4 separate regions of the Homo sapiens genome follow, and regions 2, 3 and 4 are each reported to be linked to region 1. The links are microRNA targets in miRTarBase. Many come from high-throughput screens and were not tested one by one. Region 1 holds a microRNA gene; each other region holds the end of a gene's coding sequence. Distances are between the middles of the regions.
Evidence for each region. Region 1 holds the annotated microRNA hsa-miR-6769a-5p (AGGUGGGUAUGGAGGAGCCCU, at 1,310-1,330, opposite strand). A microRNA usually pairs through its seed, bases 2 to 8, with sites in the 3' UTR of a target mRNA and lowers its output. Matches are read on the target gene's strand: a 7mer-m8 pairs with bases 2 to 8, a 7mer-A1 pairs with bases 2 to 7 and ends in A, and an 8mer does both.

Region 1 (3,097 bases):
CCCCGCTGCTCCTGTTGTAATGGCAGCGTGGAGTCAGTGCAACAGAGACCATATGCCCGGGCGGCTGAAAACATTCCCTCTCTGAACCTTTTCTCAAAGTGGGCCGCCCCCTGGTATGAAACATGAATGCACTGACTTCCCTGGGTTGAGGCGAGGCCCGGCCAGGTGCTCCGCTCCCGCCACGTGGAGCTGCTCCAGTTGTCCTGGGCCCAGATGCCATAATGAAGCGGGCCTGTGAGACTTTCCAAGAGATCTTAAGAGGCAGGAGTTTCACTCATGTCAGTGTGCCTTTTAACAAGTTCATCGACCAGGCGTGGTGGTCTCAGGCCTGAAATCCCAGCACTTTGGGAGGCTGAGGCAGGCAGATCACTTGAGATCAGAAGTTTGAGACCAGCCTGGCCAACATAGTGAAACCCCATCTCTACTAAAAATACAAAAATTAAAAATTAGGCTGGGCGCGGTGGTTCACGCCTGTAATCCCAGCACTTTGGGAGGCCGAGGAGGGTGGATCACAAGGTCAGGAGATCAAGACCATCCTGGCCAACATGGTGAAACCCCGTCGCTACTAAAATACAAAAAATTAGCCGGGTGTGGTGGCGCGTGCCTGTGGTCCCAGCTACTCAGGAGGCTGAGGCAGGAGAATCGCTTGAACCCGGGAGGCGGAGGCCACAGTGAGCCAAGATCTCCCTGCTGCATTACAGCCTGAGCAGCAGAGTGAGACTGACTCAAAAAACAAAAACAAAAAAAACTAATTTCATCCCCTGCTACATTCCCTGACTGGGGTACACCACGGCTTATTTGTCAGGCACCAGGACTGGTTCTATGGACATACAGAATAAGCATCCCTCCCCCAGGAGCTGCAGGGACGTGCTGTCTCTGGGGAGGCGGGCAGGAGCCGGGCAGCAGGGTGCCACACACCTGAGCCTAGAGGGTGAGACACTGGCCCCCATTCCTGGGCTGCCCTGGGGAACCTGGATGGCAATTTACATCAGAAGCTAGTGAATTTGCTGGAGAAAGGATAAAATGTTCCCTAAACTGTTAGCTTTAAAAAAAATTAAGGAAAAATGATGTTGTCTAGCGGGTCTAGGACTCCAGGGGAAGGCATGGAAGGGAACCGGCAAGCATTGCTGTCCGCGGCTGCTCCTGGTGTGGGCTTCTGTAATGGCAGAGGGAAACCTCACCCAGATACACACCTTGGTCTCCTGGTTGTTCTTGTTCTCAATGCCATAGATCTCCTGCAGGAGGTAGCTGACCCGGTCCACCTGGAGAGCAGAGAGGGGCTCACTGGGCCCTCGCCAACTGCCATATGAGGGCTCCTCCATACCCACCTGGCCTAGCCCTGCCTCCAACTTACCAGGCTTCCATACCAGGGGTCAGTCCAGCTCAACCCCTGGGGGCCAGGAGAAGGGCAGGGAAAACCTGCTGCTTGCCCCCACCCAACCAGCAGCACCTGGAACAGGGCTGGAGCCGGTGGCTCTCCCCACTACTGGGGGCCTGAAGCCAACCCACAGGCCCAACCACCACCCCCTGACCGCCTCACCACCCCCAACACCACTTGGCTCCACCACCACCAGCCCCACGAGGAAAGCAGGAGCTGACGCCTGAAGGCACCAGACAGCAGCCTAAGTTCCCACTGCTTTCCAGATCCTCCTTCCAAAAGGCATGAAGCCTCTCTGGTTTCAAAGACGCCAAAGCAATGTCTCCAAGCTGATTCTGTCCTGCCACCCACTTGCAACCAAAAAGCCTCACGCTGACCACATTGCAAAGCGGTTTGTGCTGCTGGGTTTCCCAGAGACCATGGGCCAGGAGCACCACTCCAGGGAGCCCAGGGCCTGCTGGTCAGCTCTCTCAACACAAGGCCCTGACCATCACTGGGGTCTCCTGTTCCCCTGGTACCTGCAGGGACCTGGACCTGCTAGAGTTTGCTGCACCTCTCTTTTGTTTATTGTGATTTACATTTTAAATAGACAGGATCTCGCTACATTGCCCAGGCTGGTCTGGAATCCCCAGGCTCAAGCAATCCTCCTGCCTCCACCTCCCATAGTGCTGGGATCATAGGCATAAGCCACTGCACCTGGACAAACTCTCTTCTAAAAAGCTAACAGATGGCCGGGTGCAGTGGCTTACACCTATCATCCCAGCACTTTAGTAGGAGGCCGAGGCTGGTGGATCACTTGAGCCCAAAAGTTTGAGACCAGCTTGGCCAACATGGCAAAACCTCATCTCTACAAAAAATACAAAAATTAGCCAGGCATGGTGGCGCGTGCCTGTAGTCCCAGCTACTCGGGATGCTGAGGCAGAAGAATCACTTGAACCCAGGAGGTGGAGGCTACAGTAAGCTGGGATCATGCCACTGCACTCCAGCCTCGGCGACAGAGTGAGACTCCATCTCAAAAATACAAAACAAAATAAAACAAAACAAATTAACCAACTGTGGTGGCGCACACCTGCAGTCCCAGCTACTTGGGAGCCTGAACGAGAAATCACTTGAACCTGGGAGACAGAGGTTGAAGTGAGCTGAGATCGCGCCACTGCATTCCAGCCTGGGCAACAGAGCGAGACTCTGTCTTGTCTCAATAAAATAAAATTAAAATTAAAATTAAATTAAATATTTAAAAAATTAAAAACTAACAAAAATCATTCCCAAGTGGTGGCTTGAAACAGGTCTTATGCGCCCCAACAGTACACACGGAGTAACTGTTAGCTGTGGCCTAGGACATCTCATTAGCAAGATCTAACACTGCTGTTTAGGGCACCCCATCCTCTAAATTCTCGGTGCCTACTTGTGAGGCCACCAGGAATAACACTTCCCAATGCAGCATCCCAGGATCGCTGACCCCAGAGAACAGATGTACTGCTCTATAGCTCCATTTATTCTCAACTATTTAATCCTTCTTTTCAAGTATTGATGAAGTCAAGCTAAGTCTCTGTCCAATACTGACATATTGGACAATTTGTAAGGAAGAGGAGAAGGAGTTGCAGACTTTGTTTCTGGTCTCTTTCCTTCCTTTTCCATCCATCCATTCGGCAAATATTTACTTAACACTATGTTCCAGACACAATGGCTCAAACTGGACAGAACTCAGGGCCTGCAGGC
Region 2 (3,000 bases), not on the chromosome of region 1:
ATGGGGGCAAGTGTGAATGGGTGAGTATGGGTAAGGGGGAGTATGCCCCTCTTAAAGCCTCCCTGGGTGCCCTCTCCCACCGCTACCGCCGCCGGCTGTCGCCTCACCACCTTTGCTCCTATCTCCTCCCCACATGTCTCACCTTCAGACGGTGGCTCCCAGAAGCTCCTGCCCCTCTGACAGCTGTCGCTTGGGCAGCCCGAGAGAAGAATTGTCCTCTTTCCTGGTGCCAGAGGACGCAGGAAATTAGCCAGGTTGCGAGTTGCAAAGCTGCTGCCGCGGCGCCGGGAACGGAGCGCGCCCAATCTCCAGCGGGAGCCGCCAGGCCTGGCCTGGCCGGGGCTTCCCTTCGCTCGCCATCTCCGGACAAAGCACAGCCGAGCCCGGCTGGAAGGCAGAGCTCCGAAGCAGGCAGGACGGAGCGGAGCAAAAGAATGCGGCTCTATTCTCGCAAGGGAAATTATAAAAAAGTTCATGTTCACGGTTCTCATCCACATGACCGACAGCGGCCAATGGAAGGGCCGAACAACTCATAAAGTTGTATTGCAAAGTTGTAAATTTTCATAAACAACAACGGATTTATGACCCTTTCCCCATCACTGAGAGGAGGCAGCTCTTACACCGGCGCCATCTTACCACCGAGGCCGCCCCGACTTGGGGCCTCAGGTTTTACAGACCCTTTTGGGCCAGGTTTTACTAAAAGAGCCATAAGAAGCGGGCCCAGCCCAGGCAGGAGACTGGAGACGAGGTCTTGCAGGCGGAACTCAGGATGCTCTGAGCTGCCCGCACAACCCCTGGACCTTCACCCCTCGCCCCTTCCCCGCATCCAGCTGCCCCAGCCCCTGCCCAGGCTGCGTAGCCTAGCGGGGGTCTGCGGTCCTAGCCCCTCCCCGCGCCACCTACTGCAGTGCCGGACCCTGGGGCCCCCTCGCCTGGTCTGCAGGCGGGGTGGGGACCTTAAATCCCATTTCCTAGCCTGGGGCTGGGTTCAGGGCGCATGCGAATCCGGAATCAGCTCTGGGTAATGCCCCTTTCCAAGCCCACTGCTCAGCCTTAGAGGAAAGTGTGGATTTGAAATTTCCTCATGGAATTGATGGAGGTTTTTAGGTAGATTCATAGAATATAACGTATCTACCAAAGATTCCGTTTTCAAGGGATCTAGAAGATGTTAGTGCACACGCAAAAACCAGACAAACGTCTCTACACGGATAAAGGCACATATACAATTATGCACACAGGGAAGGGCATACACTCTATTGTGGGCACAGAATGACATGCAATTATGGACACACAAAAACACATGCACCCAATTATGGACACCAAAATATATACAATTGTGGAATTAGGTAAAAACACACACACAGAAATACATACACAGAAAAATAAGCACATACTCATACAAATACACACATAAAAATACATTAAAAAGATACATGACACCAATACATGGGTACCCAACACTTGGACCATCACAAGGACAGCCACCCCACTTTTGCTTCCCCACTGCCCCCTGCCCTCCAGCCATACTCACCTCCCCTTTCCCAGTCCCCTCTGGATAAGGCAGTCCACATTTTTCTTTGTCACCACGCATCTTTATTTTCGGTTACATAAAACACAGCTGGGCTGGGAAGTGTGCCTTCCCTGAACCCCAGGATGGAGCTGAGCAGGGTACAGGACAACACAGGAGATGAAGGGCATTGCGGAGGGCATTGGACCTCCCCACCCACTACAGTTAACTCAAGACAACATACCATGCTACAAAGTCACCCCATTAACACATCCTTTCCAAGTCAAGACACTGCCTTACAAATGAACTCCAAGACTATAGAAATGATAAAAAAAAATCTTGTTCAAATATACAGTATCTGCTATTATAGGAAACATCAGGGCGTACATATTTAACACAGCTGAACAGTAAGATACAGGAGCCAGAGGAAAGGACAGCGAAGCTGGAAGCATCTCCACAGTCCTGCTAAGCAGAAGCTAACCCACAGATCTGCAGCCAGCTCAGGAACATTCCCCTCCAGAAGTGGGGGTTGATGGGCCTGAGCTGTGGGTGCCAAGCCAGAGAAGGAGGGATTGATTCTAGGGTGCAAGCACTTAGGATGCTTTTTGGAATAAATATATTATTTTTCGATTTAAATAGATGCCAATACCCTGATCCTGGACCTCAGCACATTCTCAGGGCAGCCTCAGGGACCCCAAAAGCTGCGGGCTGTAAGCAGCAGGGGACTTGCCTGGGAGCAGTCGGCACTAGGTAGCAGGCAAGCCAGCCAGCACAAAATAGGTAGTTTTAGGGGAGTAGGTAGTAGTGAGATTCACTTTCTTGCGGGTCTGGGAGGGTGGTGCTGGGTGTCTGCCAGTGTTGGGATACATAGGGACTTCCTGGGAATGGAGGCCCTCTGGGGCTGGATACATAGGTAGTTTGGGGGTGCCTCGAGCAGAGGCCTGTGCTAGGTAGTATTTTGGACGCGCCAGAGCAGGGCCGGCTGGCCTGGGGTTGGGGGTGTCTTTTGGGGTCCTCGGAGGCAGAGGGAATCCAAGGCGACCCAGTCTCTGCGGCCGCTCAGTCCACAAAAGTTGGGAGCTGGAGTAGGTGATGGGGGTGGGTAGAGTGCAGGTTGGGGACTGGGTTGCTTTTTTGTTTTTGTTTTTGTTTTTTACATTTTCTTTTATTTTTCCCATTTTTGTAAGTAAAACCAGTGAGTCTCTTAAAGACGCTTTTCCGACTGTCCGGTGCAGAGAGGGCCCCGGATCGGCCCCTCATTCCTCCTCGTCTTCCTCTTCTTCATCATCGTCCTCCTCGTCGGCCTTGTCCGCGGCAGCAGTGGCGGCGGCAGAGGGCACGGCGCCCTCGGGAGCTGCGGCGGCAGTCGGACCTTCGTCCTTATGCTCTTTCTTCCACTTCATGCGGCGGTTCTGGAACCAGATCTTAATCTGGCGCTCGGTGAGGCAGAGCGCGTGGGCGATTTCAATGCGGCGGCGCCGCGTCAGGTAGCG
Region 3 (3,097 bases), not on the chromosome of region 1:
AGACCCCAAATTTGTTAGAAATAAATTTTCAGTGCCACAAAAGAAATAGCACTCAAACATACATTTTCTCAGCAAGGCAATTTTACTTCTATACAAGAGTGCGTCTCATGGATGGTGCAATGGCGAGAGCACACCGGAACAAGGGAGGGGAATGGGTTCTTATCCCTGATGCAGGTACCCCCTACTGCTGTGTTGTTCCCCTATGGGCTAGGGTTGGACCGCACAATCTAAGCTAATTCTGACTGGCTATTTTAAAGAGAGCAGGGGTATAAGCCAGAGTGGTGGGGTGAGAAGTTTAGACAGGAAAGATGGTTACGGACCAGGTGACTAAAGGTGACTCAGGTCAGAGCAGGTGACAGAGGCTAGGAGGGGATTGTTTACTGAAACTAGGGGCAAGGAGACATAAAGAATGAGGAAATTAAAAGTTAAAATGAAGAACAAAGAACAGGTGAGCTGAACATACTGATACATTGGTTCTTTGGAGAGGATCTCAGAACTCAATGTACTTAACAAATTACAGGCTAAAACCTTTGAAGAAGAATTTATGATATCCTACATTATCATGGGGTAAACAATTCGTCCCTGACAGAATAAGGCTACTGGAGTTCTCTTCTTGTAACTCTGGGAAGGACTAGAGGGAACTGTGTCTGCAGTGGGGCCAGGTAGTTAAAAAGTCTGGACTGGGCCGAGCGTGGTGGCTCATGCCTGTAATCCCAACACTTTAGGAGGCCAAGACAGGTGGATCACCTGAGGTCAGGAGTTCGAGACCAGCCTGGCCAATGTGGTGAAACCCTGTCTCTACTAAAAATACAAAAATTAGCTGGGCGTGGTGGCAGGCGCTTGTAATCCCAGCTACTTGGGAGGTTGAGGGAAGAGAATTGTTTAGACCCGGGAGGCAGAAGTTGCAGTGAGCCGACATCGTGCCATTGCACTCCAGCCTGGGTGACAAGAGCGAAATCCATTGCAAAAAAAAAAAAAAAGAAAAAGAAAAAGTCTGGACCAAGCCAAGAGGGGAAGAGGACGTCCCCATGAAAGAGCTTTGGATCCAGAAAGCCCGGGTTCTTGGAATTCTTTTTCTCTTTTCACTTTTGTTGTAGCATACTTTGTTCTTTTTTATTTTTTATTTTTTTGAGATGGGGTGTGGGGGCTTTACTGTGGGTCTTGCTTTGTCACCTAGGCTGGAGTACAGTGGCTCGGTCTCTGCTCACTGCAACCTCCACCTCCCAGGTTCAAGCAATTCTCCTGCCTCAGCTTCCCAAGTAGCTGGGATGACAGGCATGCTCCACCATGCCCAGCTAATTTTTTTTACCGTTAGTAGAGACAAGGTTTTGCTATGTTGGCCAGGCTGGTCTCGAATTCCTGAGCTCAGGTGATCGGCCCACTTTGGCCTCCCAAAGTGCTGGGATTACAGGTGTAAGCAACTGTACCCAGCGCATGTTTTATTTTAATTTAATTTAATTAACTTATTTTTTGAGATGGAGTTTCCCTCTTGTTACCTAGGCTGGAGTGCAATGGCGCAATCTCGGCTCACTGCAACCTCTGCCTCCCGGGTTTAAGTGATTCTCCTGCCTCAGCCTCTCCAGTAGCTGGGATTATAGACATGTGCTACCACGCCTGGCTAGTTTTGTATTTTTAGTAGAGATAGGGTTTCTCCATGTTGGTCAGGCTGGTCTCAAACTCCTGACCTCAGGTGATCCACCTGCCTGGGCCTCCCAGAGTGCTGGGATTGTCCTTGGAATTCTGAGTGGATACATGAAGAGTTAGTAAGAACCAGTGAAAAAGCAATCACTTATGATCCTGGGCTTTGAAAAATCACTGTGATTATCTTATGCACTTACAAATGAGACTAAGACGCCTGATGGGAAAGTGCAGATTGCTGGTGAGGAAGGGCAATGAAGAAGAGACTAGGAACCAAATTCATCATCATTATCACACAAAGGCATTTGGAAATGTCACCTTACACATGGTGAGCACATATGGGTGCCAGCCCGAGACAGCAGGATAAGTTTCACAAAACTTGACCAGGCAGGTTAGAAGCAAGGCATGGTTCAGGATGGCAGAGGGCAGGGAGACAGAAGGGAGTAGGATGGGAGAGAAGAGCCAGCTGGAAGATGAGTCAGGGGGTGCAACTGGGGAGAGCAGCTCTGAATCCTGCTTCTCAGTGAGAAAGTTGCTAAGATGGCTTTGCAGGGAGCTGTCCTATCGCTGCTCGAGATCAGCCTGCTGGGCCTATGATGATAAGCAGGGCTGACCCTCTTGGGCTCTGTAGCTAAGCCCAAACCCTGCTGAAAATGGGGCGGGGAGGTTGAGGCAGTGTGTGGCAAGTGACACAGACGGGGACTCCCAGCTGGGGGTCCCTGGAATTACTTGACATCCCACAGCTGGTGTCTTCAGCAGTCATCTGGGGCAACAATCCCACCTGCCCATTGTGGTTGTTGAGGATATCAGAGCTTTTGTTTTAAAGCGCTTGCCACAAACTCTTAAGATGCGGATGGGTTTCCCCTGTGAAGCACTCCACAGGCGGGATGCAGGCCCATCTGAGGAGGGGCTTGGAAGGAAGAGGAGCACTTGAGACGGGGCAGAACTGGGCTGGCCTGGGGCTCAGCGACAGCTCCATTGCAGACAAACTGGGCTGGGGAAGGCAGCTCCCACCTGGCAGAGGATGCCCTTCTGCCCCCTGACAGGAGGGAGGAGACCACCGCATCCCCGACTTTCAGCCCTCACGTGCCATCTGGTGGCTTTGCTGCAGACACTGCCATGATCTGAGTGGTCTTTGGCAATCACGCATTGGCGGGAGTGTGAGGTTGCGGGGAAAGAGGGACTGACCATGGGCCTAGGTGGGGAGGCCTGGCCACTGTGCCCACAGCTTAGGAAGGGACAGTCAGAGCTCCTCTTTGTTGCTATCGACGGACTGAGCCAGAGGCCCTGGAGCCAGGGGGGAACCTAGTGGCTCTTGGTCGCCAAGCTGCTGGCTGCTGTCCTCCAGGCGCCTGCCTGTGGGGGCATAGTCCCGCAGGAGCCTGCTCTCCACTCTGTGCTGCCAAAGGCTCTCGGTACTCACGAGTCCCTGCATCCTCAGGTACCCCTGCTGGCAAAA
Region 4 (3,097 bases), 4.4 Mb from region 1:
CTTTAAAGCAAATGTCTCCTGTCCTTATCTGTAAATTTTGTGCAGTACCTACCTCATAGATGGGAGAATTTAATGAGATATTTGTACACCTAGCACGGTGGTTGACACGTAGTAACTTTTAGTAATTGGTAGTTACCAATATTGTAGATATTGGTAGTATTACCAATAAAATATATGTCAAGGCCAGATGATATGTTTATCCAGAATAAAACTTAATTGCTTACTAGTAATCCCTTATAAAGGAAATAGGCAGACATGCTTTGACATTGTGACAACATGGAAAGTAAGTGGGTTGCTTTCAAAAGGGTTACATAATTGAGCAACTCTAAAACCTTTTTTCTTCTTCCTAGGTCTTAGTGGTGCAATGGCTAGTATAAGCGTGCGTTCGAGTACCCCAGGCTCTCCTACACATGTAAGCAGTGGATCGAATGCTAGTCGAAGGAGAAATGGACTCCATGATGTCGATTTGAACACTTTCATATCAGAAGAAATGGCACTCCACTTGGACAATGGTGGAACTAGAAAGCGTACCTCAGCCCAGTGTGGCGATGTCATTACAGACTCACCAACCCATAAACGCAACAGAATGATCTAAACTGCAAACATTTTCACACCCACCATGCTGCTTGAAAGCCACTTGATCCTCAACATATACTATAATTGCAAAGGAAACATGAGGCCATCTTCCCTTGTTCACTGTTTAAGACAAGTGAATTCTATAGTGGTTGCCATAAAAGGAAGTTCTAGGTATTTATAGTAGATGCCTCTTGTAATTATGGCTTTCTTAAAACTATAATCCTAGCAGAGGACATCAGATATTGTGTAGTCGTTAGCAAGATCATCATAGGCAAACATATATCCGTTCCAAGGCTAAAAGTGACCTTAACTGTATTTATTCTCAAAGGGAAAGGAAATATCAGATGTTTATTTGGTTATAGAATGCTTTTTTTTTTTTTGGGTCCATTTCCTGCTGTGTTGAGTATTTTGCTTCAACAGTATTGCCAGGTTCCTAAAATTGTCTAAAAACATGATTTGGCTTCCATTTTTGCAGCTGCACTGTACCATGCACCTGGTTTCTATATAGTAACAGTGTGCAATTCTAATTATTGGACTGTGCCCTGTTTTTAGTTTTCAAATCAATTTCTAATTCTGGTGATTGTGTGATGTAAAGAGGTGCTATGATGGTCATGCAATTAATACTAAATATTGAATCAATGCCCAGAGCTTTATTGGATTCACTTTGTGTGTGTTAGTGCTCTAAAGTAGCAGTATTATTATTAAACTGTCCCCAGAGTAACCCTGTAGGCCTAAAGTACTCAGTTTTAAGACAAACACTACTTCCCATGCGGGGTACTTTCCTTATGGTAAATGTAAACATGTAGACTGCATTCGAGGTGACCTAAAGTAGAGAGGTCATGAACTTTGAGAATGGGCTTCCTTTTTGGTTCAGTATTAGTGAGAGGGAGAGGGAGATGGATGGTGGGGTAGGTTTTCTAGTCTATCATTTTACATTTTTCATGGAGTCCCTGCTTAGTGCAGTTTCCATTGGAATGGGTGGAAGATGATAAAGCTCTCTTTTTTATCTACTAATAATGTGATTGCAACTTAAAATAGCAAAACCCAACTCTCCCTGTCCCTCCAATCCCTCTCCTAAAAAGTTCAGTTTGGAATCTCATTCTGGAAAAGATGGAATCGCATGGAGATTCTCTAGCTGTTAGGTAGACCTAAATAAAAAGTTCTCAATAGATTCCTCTTTTGAGTAAATATAAGACCTCTTGTAGCTACAATGTTTTAGAGCATGTTTCATCTTCATTTTTAATATCCTGAACTGAATGATAGTGTTTTTTTAGATGAAGAACTGATGTCAGCCTGCCAGGTACTGTAATTTATTCTATCATATTATTATATTATATATCAAGTAGGACAGTGAAAAATGTTTCCTTGCAAACTTGTAGTCCAGTATCAGTTACTTCCTATTTTTATCCTTAAAAGACCATTGCAAATCAGTGTAAGGGTTTTTCCAGTAATTACTCACAGCACTTTGTTAAAGTTTGCAATTTCTTCAGCCATTTAATAATATCTTTCTGTGAAGAAACTTTGCTGAGTTAACCATAAATGTTCATTCATTGACTGGGTGGGATGTGAATGGAATGTTAGAAATGTTGTGTGAATTGAAGTTCTGTATTCATTATAGATGTAGCCCTTATTTAAAAAAGTGAATTCCATACTAAAACTAGGAATGAAAGTGAGAGATTTCTAAACTTTTGCGAAAGTGGGTCATTTTTTGTTTGACTATAATAGCAGGAAGAATTATAGCAATCTGTCATTTTACCTGAAACAGACAAGCCTATGTATTATGAATACTTTCAAGCTTCCCTTTGGAATATACAAGACATGCGTTTGGAGTTACCTTTGTTTTTCTATCGTAAATTTAGATTCTGGAATTGGGGTTTGGTGGTGCAATGTGTTGCTCACAAGTGGCCAGAACTCCTATTCCTAAAAGGATTTTGAGATGGAGGAACACATATTTAATTCCCCTTTATGCCTTGGTTCTTGCTCCTCTTTCCACGTTGGATAACAATTTTTTGGTTGTTTTGTTTAAGTTGGTGCTCTGAAGCTTAATCTCAGTACCCTTTACTCTGAATTGTCAAATTTTGATAAAACGTGCCATTTTCTTTGGTAAGAGAAAGCAGGTCTTAATGTCTGCCAGAACACAATTTATATGCCTTATTGGCTTCATTAAACTTTTAGAAAACTTTAGCATTTGTTACTTTTTTCCATTGCGTTTACTTTCAAATGCACCTAATGAATTTGTCACCCAGTCGCAACTTTTCCCTTCTCTGTCCCATTGCTTTCTCCTTTCCCCGACGCACAGAATAAACATGAAGCTCAGCAGTAGAAGCGTAATGATTTCCCTCAGGAAAAACTTCTGACAGCTAGGTTTTTCAAGGGTTTCCCTGTGCTAGCTGAGATGCAAAACAAATCATGGAAGATTGCATACCTGTGTGGTATTTTAAAAACAAGTTGACTTTTTCAGTTTCTTGAACGGTTAAGGGTGGATTTAAAAACTAGACAGTTTAGTTTTGGGGAACAGAAG

Region 2: miRTarBase lists HOXA7 as a target of hsa-miR-6769a-5p. Seed matches in the 3' UTR shown: 7mer-m8 at 2,605-2,611.
Region 3: miRTarBase lists FOXRED2 as a target of hsa-miR-6769a-5p. Seed matches in the 3' UTR shown: 7mer-A1 at 280-286.
Region 4: miRTarBase lists HAPSTR1 as a target of hsa-miR-6769a-5p. Seed matches in the 3' UTR shown: 8mer at 613-620.

The regions. Positions count from the first base shown.
Region 1 is chr16:4,669,556-4,672,652 of GRCh38, reverse strand. MIR6769A (microRNA 6769a) reads right to left here and starts at 1,335; the gene lies at 1,263-1,335. MGRN1 (mahogunin ring finger 1) reads right to left here. Exons shown (of 17, transcript NM_015246.4): 9 at 1,194-1,262.
Region 2 is chr7:27,152,146-27,155,145 of GRCh38, forward strand. HOXA7 (homeobox A7) reads right to left here. Exons shown (of 2, transcript NM_006896.4): 2 at 1,571-3,000. The coding sequence ends at 2,764. It overlaps HOXA3 (homeobox A3), which reads right to left and starts at 438. Exons shown (of 6, transcript NM_153631.3): 1 at 143-438. HOXA-AS3 (HOXA cluster antisense RNA 3) reads left to right here. Exons shown (of 3, transcript NR_038832.1): 3 at 149-3,000. RefSeq lists an enhancer at 2,374-2,958.
Region 3 is chr22:36,487,127-36,490,223 of GRCh38, forward strand. It overlaps FOXRED2 (FAD dependent oxidoreductase domain containing 2), which reads right to left. Exons shown (of 9, transcript NM_001102371.2): 9 at 64-3,097. The coding sequence ends at 2,882. Among named protein-coding and RNA genes, the nearest start is that of TXN2, 7.0 kb to the left of the region's middle.
Region 4 is chr16:9,116,318-9,119,414 of GRCh38, forward strand. It overlaps HAPSTR1 (HUWE1 associated protein modifying stress responses), which reads left to right. Exons shown (of 4, transcript NM_014117.3): 4 at 351-3,097. The coding sequence ends at 595. Among named protein-coding and RNA genes, the nearest start is that of HAPSTR1, 26 kb to the left of the region's middle.